Regions from separate parts of the Homo sapiens genome. Here region 2 is linked to region 1. The links come from fine-mapping of genetic effects on gene expression. A gene starts in region 1. The other region holds a variant in brackets. All regions are shown on one strand. Distances are from middle to middle.

Region 1 (5,392 bases):
GATCATATCTTCTAAAAATGTGTATGGCAGCAAGGTGTTATATAGAGGTACACTCTGGCTTGGCTCAGTAGATTTACTGATGTTACTAAGGATGTCCTGAACAATATTCTCAGCCACTGAATTAGAATAGGTAGAAGCTGAAAAATCCCCAGAAAACAGTGGATGAAGAAGGTAATCTGAAATAGCTGCTACAATTAAATTGGTAATATTTTCCACAAAAATGCCACTGTCTTCAGACTCTTTATCAACAGCAAGGTCTAGCCCATGCTGCTTTAAAGCATTTCTATAAACTGAGGTGGCAAGTTCATCCACAATATCTGTATTGAAAGAAAAGAAAGCCTGTTCTTTGTCATCATAGAGAATGTGAATTTTAGCTTTATTGAAATGCCTATTTATGGAGTTTACTATTCTTTGGGTCATGTTTTTCAACTCAATTTCAGTGTTATGCTTTGGGCTGAAAATCTTTGACAAAAGTCTGGCAACAATCTCCCTTACAAATGAATCAAGGTGAATATCTAAAGGTGATTGCTTCTGAGGTCTGTGTGACTCTATCACTTCACTCAGAACCTGTGTAACAATAGTAGACACTGGATCCAGTGGAGTCCTTGGATGACATAAAACCTCTCCACTCAAAAATGGTTGAAGATGATTTTCGATAATCTCTTGGATGATAAAGCTGGCTATTTGGTCAATCATAATTGGGCTTCGGCTTACTATACTTTTTTGTATTGAAACAAGAGAGTCAGACATTTGCAAAATATTACAATATACAGAATCCACCATCTTTTGGAGGTTTTTTCCAGTATATAGATATTGATTATCATATATAGTGAACCAGATTTTATGTTTTGAAATGGCTGACATAACCTTATTTATTATACAAGTGGACATTTCATTAAAATCAGAACTCATTAAATATTTTTTTCCTAAAGAGGAACATGTAATGGGTGGAGGAATTAGCTGAGATAAAAGCCTTCTTATGACATCTTCTAAAAATGAATGTGATAACATGGTACTATAGTCTGATGAAGACCTGGGTAGAGAAGTAAATTCTGTTAGGTTACTTTGAAGCTTTTGCAATATAATTTCAGGTTTGAGAGGGTAATATGAATGGGGTATGAGATGTTCCTTGAAGCAAGATGGCAGTTTGTAGTCTAAAATCTCTAACAATATGCCATTTGTTATTTGTTCTGCTATTGAGGCATTGTCGTATACCGGATTATTACCACAGGCCACTTTTAATTCATACTGCTGTAAAACATCATAATAAACTGAGTCAACAATTTTGCTAACAGTTTCTGTATGAACTGGTGGAAAACACAGCCTTTCTTCAGCATTCCGTAGAACAGTGACTTGAGCATTATTAAATTCATTCACTACATTGTTGACAAATAATGTATTCATCTCATTGAGCCAGGACACAGTGATGTTTTTATTTTTGCCCCACAATGACATAGAGAGATTAAAAAACAATTCTGAAATTATTCCTTCCAAAAATGTGGCTGAATAAACACCAGCATATATACCTTCCTGATGTAGCTTATTATGAATGGCTACCTTATCCATTTCCTTTGTTCTCTGTCTTTCAAAAGGTGACACAGAAGAGGATTTTACTGCACAATGCTTGTTAAATGGTGCTTGTATTTTGGAGCTAACCACACTGGGATTATTCAGGGATACTGTCAAAGAATTACTATCATAGCTCCTGAGTTCTAAAGAACTTTTACTCTGTCCTAATTCTATTAATTCTGACTTTCTTGCTTTTATGAAACTAGACTGTATTTCTCTTGTTCTGTAGTTCAAATGCTTATTTGCAAAAGGTAGACTTTCCGGAGCTTGTTGTATGCTGTGAGATAATTTGTCCATCAATGATTTAACCAAGCTGTGGGAAATAATAGTAAGCATAGAGTCTGATGTCAATAAGTCTTGATCAATTTCTGCCACATTCTCCAAAAGGTCTGACATGTAATCTACTTGAAGGCATTCACAGTCCATTCCTCCCTTACGATAATCAGATTTTCCATCTTCTACACTTTGAAGCATTTTTAAAAGTTGACATTCTTCTGCTGATGTTTCCTCTGAAACAGACCCTTTATCAGGAAAAGCAGTGCTTGTGCATTCTTCCAAAAGTATTCTGATAAGTTTCTCACATACAACATTGAGAAGAAAAACTGATTTTGAGGAGAGCTGTAGGTTATTGGTAAGTATGCTATTAGGTTGCTCATTATTCGAGGAGTAGAAATATGTTCTTTGTATTTTACCAGAATCCATACCCGTATCTAGGCATTCATCTGGTGAAAATAAATCTGAAACAATATTAAAAACTTTATTGACTACTTCTTTGGATTCACTTGTTTTTAGGTTACCAACCAGGCTGTTTAACTTACATGCAAGATAACTTAACTTATTTTTTTGAAAAAGTTGACCAATTTGTTGAGTAGAAAATTGCCAGTCTCTGGGGCTTGCCTGTCTATTGATTTTGTTGCAAAGGGGTACACTATTATTTCTATGCATAGAAAATGATTTGTTTCTTACATTGCTTTCAAAGTGATAATCTACTTCTATTTCTTTGGACAGTACATGAATCACTCCTACTAAGAGATCCTGAAAGAGGTCATCAAAGCCACCAGAAACTATTCCTGGACAGTAAGTGTATTTTGTAGGTATGGCAACCATTTTCTGTGCAATGTCAGCCTGTATAATTTTATTATTAAAAAGAATTTTAATAATGATTTCAGAAATACATAAAGCAAGTTCTCCAATGGAAATTGACCTGCTCTCAAACACTTGAGAATGAATTGAAATAATCTTGCTAAATGTTGCTTCTTGAATTTCCCATGCTTTCTCTTTTTCTCTACCCTTTTTGGTGCCATCAGAAATGCTCGAAGTTAAATGGTAAAGTACTGACTCAGTGAGATGTTCACAACATTGATAAATTGAAGAATCATCGTATATGTTTCTTAGGAACTGTTTTGATTCATATTTTTTCCTTGACCATGTAGAAACAGACATCTTTTCCTCACTAAAAACTTAAAAAAGGAAACATTGTAATTTTAGCATGGATTAAAGAAAATATAGAAAATTCAATATATTTGAAATTATTATTTACATATATATTTCACCCTTTGAGCAACTCACTAAAGAAAAATCTAAACAAAAAAAGAAATTAGATTTTCCTCAAACATTTATTTTCTCACCTTGCAAAATCTTAATTTTAGCCAATAAATTGAGAAAATAACACCCCAAAATTCAATCCTCTAAGTCAAATGCTGATGTCTGCCTTGGTTGGATGGTTATGAACTCTTAAGAAGCTGGAAAGCTTGGGGCAGAGAAATAATTTCCAGGCTTAGCGATGCATCCTACCATGTCTCCAGTGATACCTAGAGGTGCCATATAATTATTTTAAAATAGCTTTAGACAAAACATTTAATGTTATGCTATGTTTTACTTTTAGGACATTAAGGAGTTGTGTTGCAATATCAAGTTGACTAAAATAAAAGTGTGGCAACTCCAGAAAAGCTAGTAATAGATTGCAATAGCAGTAGTACTTTAGTCCCTAGATTATAGTTTGTCACAAAGAAGGAAGGTTGGCCCAGCCAGGTGAAGAACTCTATATTTGTTTTGTCCAAAATTCTATTTGTTACAAATCATTACCTATTTGCAATGGCCAACTGCTGGGTGTGGCAGCCAAGAGCAACACAGTTTTTTTCCTCAGAACTTAATTATATATTATATATCTTCATGTGTTATCAGGCAAGACTCTACACAGATAGAAGACTTTAAGCTGAGCTTTGACTGCTACACAGGTTTTGGCCATGTCAAGATACAGGGAATGAGGAAAAGGTATTCCTAGTGGAAGAAGGAACATGAGCGAAGTCACTGGAAGACCTTGGAGATGTCTGAGAATAGGAATATAGAATTGTTAGAGCCAAGTGTCAATGTGATGAAATCATGGATCTTCTCTTGCTTGTTTTGCTTTTGTTTATTTTTCTGAAATCAATTAAGTCATGCCTGGAGTAAGTCTATTTAAGAGTTTGTAGTTGTAGCTACATTACCGTCCATCTTGGGAGAATACTGGTTTTAAGGATGGAAAATAACCTCCTCGTGCAGGTGGGTAGGACTGCTAATATCTCCAATTAGAATGATGTGTGATGTATCTGGACTGGTGATGTAGCAAGTAATTATTGGTAACTGAAACTACTGACCTAGATCTGGGGTATTATAGTAATACTAAACTGAATTTTATTAATTGTCAATAATCAACTGTTTTTGATATACAAAATGACGATTACATGTTGTTTCACCTAATATATACACATGAGTATACTTAGAAAGATAATGCAAATATAATCCCTGTAATGATACAGTTGGAGTATTATATCTAAAAGGAATTTAAGTCAGAATACTGGAATGCAAATAAAACAAGATATTCAATTCTACTGTTCTTTTAAACTTTGAATAATAATAACAAAGCCTTCAAGAATACAAAAATTAAATGACTTTTAATCAGTTAACTGCACATCCCATATGATTATAAAGAAGTTATGCATAAGAATTTTAAAAACCCTTCCAAATTTATGCCTCATGCTCAACCAAAATCTCCTGCTTTAAAATGGCCTCATTTTCTCTCATTTGTAGATAGAGAAAACTGAGCAACACATCCTTCAAATTCAAATCCTGAAAACATTTATTTATTTTTATTTTTTTGCATTGTGATGAATTAAAAAGCAATTGAGGCTGAGCACAGTGGCTCATGCCAGTAATCCCAACACTTTGAGGGGCCGAGAAAGAAGGATCACATGAGGCCAGGAGTTTGAGACCAGCCTGCGCAACATAGCAAAACCCTGTCTCTACAAAAAGATTTTTAAAAATTAGAGTGCAGTGGCATGCCTGTGGTCCCAGCTATTTTGGGGGAAGGCTGAGATGGGAGGATGTCTTCAGTCCAGGAGTTCAAGGCTGCAGGAAGCAATGATCATGCCACTGTACTCTAGCCTCAGTGACAGAGACACTATTTCTAAATAAAATAAAATAATACATTTAAAATAAAATTAAAGTGCAACTCAGTAGTCATCTACCTCCAAGGGTATTTTCAGAAAAATAGTGAATACAGCTTTTTAGACAGGAGATCTTTTAAACATGTCTTTTACTGGTTTTCTTCCTAAATCATGCAAATTTTTAGGTACGTTCTCTCTTGCTTACCTGTAGTTTCAAAGTTCTTCAAATATGTGACCACAGATGTGGTGACATGTCTTGCTATCAGATGAACTTCATTGGAACCCATTTCATGATCAGCAAAAGTAAAGGCTTCAACTTCCTTCACAGTCTCTATCTTTGGGTACTCCTTTTTTTTCAATTTTTGCAAAAAAGAAGAATCTTCCCGGCTGGCTTCAAG
Region 2 (5,392 bases), 280 kb after region 1:
ATTAGTTCATTTTCACACTGCAGATAAAGATATACCTGAAACTGGGAACAAAAAGAGGTTTAAATGGACTTATAGTTCCATATAGCTGGGAAGGCCACAGAGTCATGCCGGGAGGTGAAAGGCACTGCTTACATGGCAGAGGCAAGAGAAAAATGAGGAAGAAGCAAAAGCAGAAAGCCCTGAAAAACCCATCAGACCTCGTGAGATTTATTCACTATCATGAGAAGAGCACAGGAAAGACTGGCCCCATGATTCAACCACCTCCCCCTGGGTCCCTCCCACAACACTTGGGAATTCTGGGAGATACAATTCAAGTGAGATTTTGGTGGGTTCCAGTCAAACCATATCATTCTGCCCCTGGGCCCTGCAAATCTCATGTCCTCACATTGCAAAACCGATCATGCCTTCTCAACAGTTCCCCATAGTCTTAACTCATTTCAGCATTAACCCAAAAGTCCACAGTCCAAAGTCTCATCTGAGTCAAGGCCAGTCCTTCCACCTATGAGCCTGTAAAACGAAAGCAAGCTAGTAGTTACTTCCTAGATACAATGGGGGTACAGGTATTGGGTAAATATATCCATTCCAAATGGGAGAAATTGGCCAAAACAAAGGGGTTACAGGGCCCATGAAAGTCCAAAATCCAGCAGGGCAGTCAATTTTTTTCTTTTTTTCTTTTTTTCTTTTTTTTTTTTTTGAGATGGAGTCTTGCTCTGTCACCCAGGCTGGAGTGCAGTGGCGTGATCTTGGCTCACTGCAAGCTCTGCATCCCTGGTTCATGCCATTTTCCTGCCTCCACCTCCCGAGTAGCTGGGACTACAGGCGCCTGCCACCATGCCTGGCTAATTTTTTGTATTTTTAGTAGAGACGGGGTTTCACCGTGTTAGCCAGAATGGTCTCGATCTCCTGACTTCATGATCTGCCTGCCTTGGCGTCTCAAGTTGCTGGGATTACAGGCATAAGCCACTGCACCAGGCCACAAGGCAGTCAAATTTTAAAGCTCCAAAATGATCTCCTCTGACTCCAGATCTCACATCAAGGTCACACTGATGCAAGAGGTGGGTTCCCATGGTCTCTAGCAGCTCCAACCTATGACTTTGCAGGGTACAGCCTCCCTCCTGTCTGCTTTCACAGGTTGGCATTGAGTGTCTGTGGCTTTTCTGGGTGCACAGTGCAAGCTGTTGGTGGATCTACCATTCTGGGGTCTGGAGGATGGTTGCCCTCTCTTCTCAGATGAGGGGACCCTCTCCTCCCCAGTAAGATGCAGTGTGGGGGCTCCAATCCCACATTTCCCTTCCACACTGCCCTAGCAGAGGTTCTCCATGAGGGCCCTGCCCTTGCAGCAAATTTTTGCCTGGGCATCCAGTTGTTTCCATACATCTTCTGAAATCTAGGCAGAGGTTCCAAAACCTCAGTTCTTGACTTCTGAGCACCCACATGCTCAACATCACATGGAAGCTCTCAGGGCTTGGGGCTTCCACTCTCTGAAACCACAGCCCAAGCCGTACATTGGCCCCTTTCAGCCACAGCTGGAGTAGCTGGGACAAAGGGCACCAAGTCCCTAGGCTGCTCATGGCATGAGAACCCTGGGCCCATCGAACAAAACCAGTTTTTCCTACTGGGCCTCTGTGCCTGTGATGGGAGGGCCTGCTGGGAAGTTCTCTGACATGGCCTAGAGACATTCTCCCATGATCTTGGGGATTAACATTAGGCTCCTTGCTACTTATGCAAATTTCTGCAGCTGGCTTGAATTTCTCCCCTAGAAAATGGGTTTTTCTTTTCTAATGCATTGTCAGGCTGTAAATTCTCCAAACTTTTAGTCTCTGCTTCCCTTATAAAACTGAATGCCTTTAACAGCATCCAAGTCACCTCTTGAATGCTTTGCTGCTTAGAAATTTCTTCCACCAGATACCCTAAATCACCTCTCTCAAGTTCAAAGTTCCACAAATCTCTAGGGCAGGGGCAAAATGGCACCAGTCTCTTTGCTAAAACATGACAAGAGTCACCTTTGCTCCAGTTCCCAAAAATTTCCTCATCTCCATCTGAGACCACCTCAGCCTGGACGTTTTCATATCACTATCGGCATTTTTGTCAAAGCCAATCAACAAGTCCCAAAGAGGTTTCAAACTTGCCCACATTTTCCTGTCTTCTTCTGAGCCCTCCAAATTGTTCCAGCTTCTGCCTGTTACCCAGTTCCAAAGTCACTTCCACATTTTCGGGTATCTTTTCAGCAAGGTTGCCCTCTACTGGTACCAATTTACTGTATTAGTCCATTTTAATGCTGCTAATAAAGACATACCCAAAACGGAACAAAAAAAGAGGTTTAATTGGACTTACAGTTCCACATAGTTGGGGGGGTCTCAGAATCATGGCAGAAGGCAAAAGGCACTTCTTACATAGCGGCGGCAAGCAAATTAGGCAGAAGCAAAAGTGGAAACCCCTGCTAAACCATCAGATCTTGTGAGACTTATTCACTATCATGAAAATAGTATGGGAAAGACTAACCTCCACGATTC[A/G]GTTATGTCCCCCTGGGTCCTTCCCACAACACATGGGAATTCTGGGAGATATAATTCAAGTTGAGATTTCAGTGAGGACACAGACAAACTATATCATATAGTTTAGATAGATATAGTGAGATATGAGGGAGACATTGGTCAGGGATGTACTTAGAAGAAAAACTATCATTTAGACTTTATAAAATTACAAAACAATTACTGGGATGAATTATTAGCATAAGAAATAATGCACAAAAGGGTAAAGGGCTAAAAATTTATTAGAGTGTTATAGATTTAAAAGACCTTCTAAAATCCCCCAACTGTCTCCATACACATACACACCACTTACAAAGTTTCAAGTTTATTAGGGCAGGATATAGAACACATGGAATGTATGCTGTCATACAGAACAGATGATAATGCAACAGATATTTGTGAGACACTTTCTTGAGTTGTTTTCCATAAAAGTTTCCATGCTGTACACAACACTTTTCTGCTAGAATTGAGAAGGAAGCTAATTTCTTGTTGTGACCTGCCCATTTAAACTCTGGGTAATTTACCCATCACTGGAATAAACAAACAACGGCTCCTTTAACTTTCTCTAAGCCATGAGCCTCTACTGCCCCATCAAAGCAAACTCATTATGGATGAGAGGATGGAGAGATATGTAAAAGAAGTCAGCACTAATGCCTCCTAGATTATACTTCTGCCTCCAGATCTCTAACAGACTCAAAGCCTATCTCTTCATGTACAAACACTATGTGGCTGAGTGTACAGAATGAAGAGCTGTAATGGTTAAACAGAGAAGGAAGAAAGAGGACTTTCTACAGGAGGTTGAGACATTGCATTTAAATTATATCTGATGGGAGCTAATTAAAATTTTTGAGAAAAGTAAAGAAGGGATAAATTATTCAAACTTAAAAAGAAAAACTTTCTTTTTTTGGAAGCAGAGAAGACAAAATGGAAGAAGGAGAGATTATAGAGATTTGAGATCTCAGGGTGAGATGATAGTCTTAATAAAGAACACAGTAAATGAAGGGGAGAAAGATATGTGTGTGGGAGTATGAAGGAAAAATTGAATGGGCAACGGTCGGGGAGACATGACCACATTGGAGAGAGATTTTATTGATTATATGACATATTGGGAGGGCTATGGTGAAAGAGGGAGAAGAGCTGACAATAAACCTTGTTTAAAATATCACAGTCAGTACTGAAAACTCACATCCTCAATCTACATAATGCTGGTCAGATAAAGACCTCTTGAAATTGAAGATCATAAACAGAAGTTCATTTATTGGGTTTCAGGGCTGAATTTTTAAATACCTTTTATGAATAGTCTTTATATTGATGGGAATTGAACAGCTTATATTTGTCTTTGACAAAAATGAGTGGATTTGCTAGAATTTTATTTTCTGGAACACATTTATCCAACTCTGGAGAAACATCAGAGTTCTAGACAGGTTTCAATAGCAGTCTATAAATCATCAAATTCTCCTATGAAAAGTGTCTGAGCCAACTGGTTTAGCTTGTTGAATTCATATAATTAGAAAAGAAAAAAAGGTATAGGAAAGCCAAGTTACCCCATTAGGTTGTAGGTAGAAACAGAATAGTTGCAGAATACTTAAGACATAACTTATCTAGCCATTTACTTCTGACATATATGTTTGTTTTGTTATTTCTTTAATAGTCATTATCATTTGCATTTACATATGGAGGCTCATGAATATATATATTTACATATATATGACAAATTATTTCCTGATTCTCTTCCTGTTTGACCAGAACAGGATTTTTAAAAACTTTCGCCTGCTATCACCTTGAAAATGTGAGTATATAATATTTTCTTAACATTTCACAAATAGTGTAGAGTTAATAACTAGTGTACCTATATCTCTATTGAAATTCTCTTTTGCATCATGAAAGAGAACTCAGCTATAACTAGAATCATACTCCCTTTTACATCTCCTTTATGCATGAGGAATTAACCTAGGCCATCCTCTCCATATTCTGTCTCCCCATATATTTTGTTTCCTTGTTTAGAGTAATAAAATCATAAAATATATTGAAATTGAAATTAGGGGTGAAATGTGAAATCTTACTTAGAAATATGTAAACTGTATGATTTTTACCCTAGATTTGTGCTTAGGGCACTGAACTCTTGTACACATTTGTCTACCTTTCTATTCTTACTTATTGCAGTTACCATTTGTTGAGATTATTGACTTAGTTGATTCTAATTTGGTCTTTATCCTTTCTAATCTTCTCATTTTGTTCCTCCATTATATTTTATATTTTTCTAATGTTTAATTTTCAAAATTCTTGCAATAGACAGTTTGGTCACCTGAAACTTATGGTTGTCAAAAAAATACCTATACTGATGAATCTAAAATTTCTTTTTCTAGTCCTGAGTTTTATTTTAATATATCTTACTACATATCTGGATATTCTCAACTATTTGTTAAAAAATTGTCACCATTTAATCAAAAAAATTCTTATGGTCATAAATTCTTTTTTTCCTTCATTCTATACTTCCTACCCAAATTAGATTTAAAAATAGTTCTAGACTTTGTTAGCATGTATCACTTCATTCAGTCAAAATTTTTCTGCTTTTAGCTTTTGTATTATTCTAGATTTAATCACTTTTTCTGTAGTAACTATGACTTTATTACTTACCATTTCACTAAGTGCTTGAGTCAATAATAAAAACACCCTTCACAATGTATAATGGATCAAATGTAATAGAAATTGTTTTCTAGGTAAAAGATCAAAATAGTTATTCTGCATTACCACATAGTTTTTCTCCAAGGTCTGCTTTGAGTTTCCAAACTTTTTACATTTTTCCGCTTCAACATTTACAGCTGGCTTTAAAGGTAAGTGTTCTCATGTACATCAAACTTGTA

Which allele goes with the higher level. Alleles are on the strand shown, and positions count from the first base shown. SD is a standard deviation of normalised expression in the study named.
In carriers of allele A in region 2, the expression in visceral fat of the gene that starts at base 2,576 in region 1 tends to be higher than with G alone (small effect, 0.39 SD a copy in GTEx).

Evidence for each region. PIP is the estimated chance that this variant, and not a neighbour inherited with it, causes the effect.
Region 2: its variant is the best candidate, but not a certain one, in a credible set for the expression of FSIP2-AS1 in visceral fat (GTEx, PIP 0.51).

The regions. Positions count from the first base shown.
Region 1 is chr2:185,797,334-185,802,725 of GRCh38, reverse strand. FSIP2-AS1 (FSIP2 antisense RNA 1) reads left to right here and starts at 2,576. Exons shown (of 3, transcript NR_144453.1): 1 at 2,576-2,646. FSIP2 (fibrous sheath interacting protein 2) reads right to left here. Exons shown (of 23, transcript NM_173651.4): 16 at 5,200-5,392; 17 at 1-3,029.
Region 2 is chr2:185,519,524-185,524,915 of GRCh38, reverse strand. No RefSeq gene overlaps it. Among named protein-coding and RNA genes, the nearest start is that of FSIP2, 220 kb to the left of the region's middle. The variant A/G (reference allele first, on the strand shown) is at 2,514.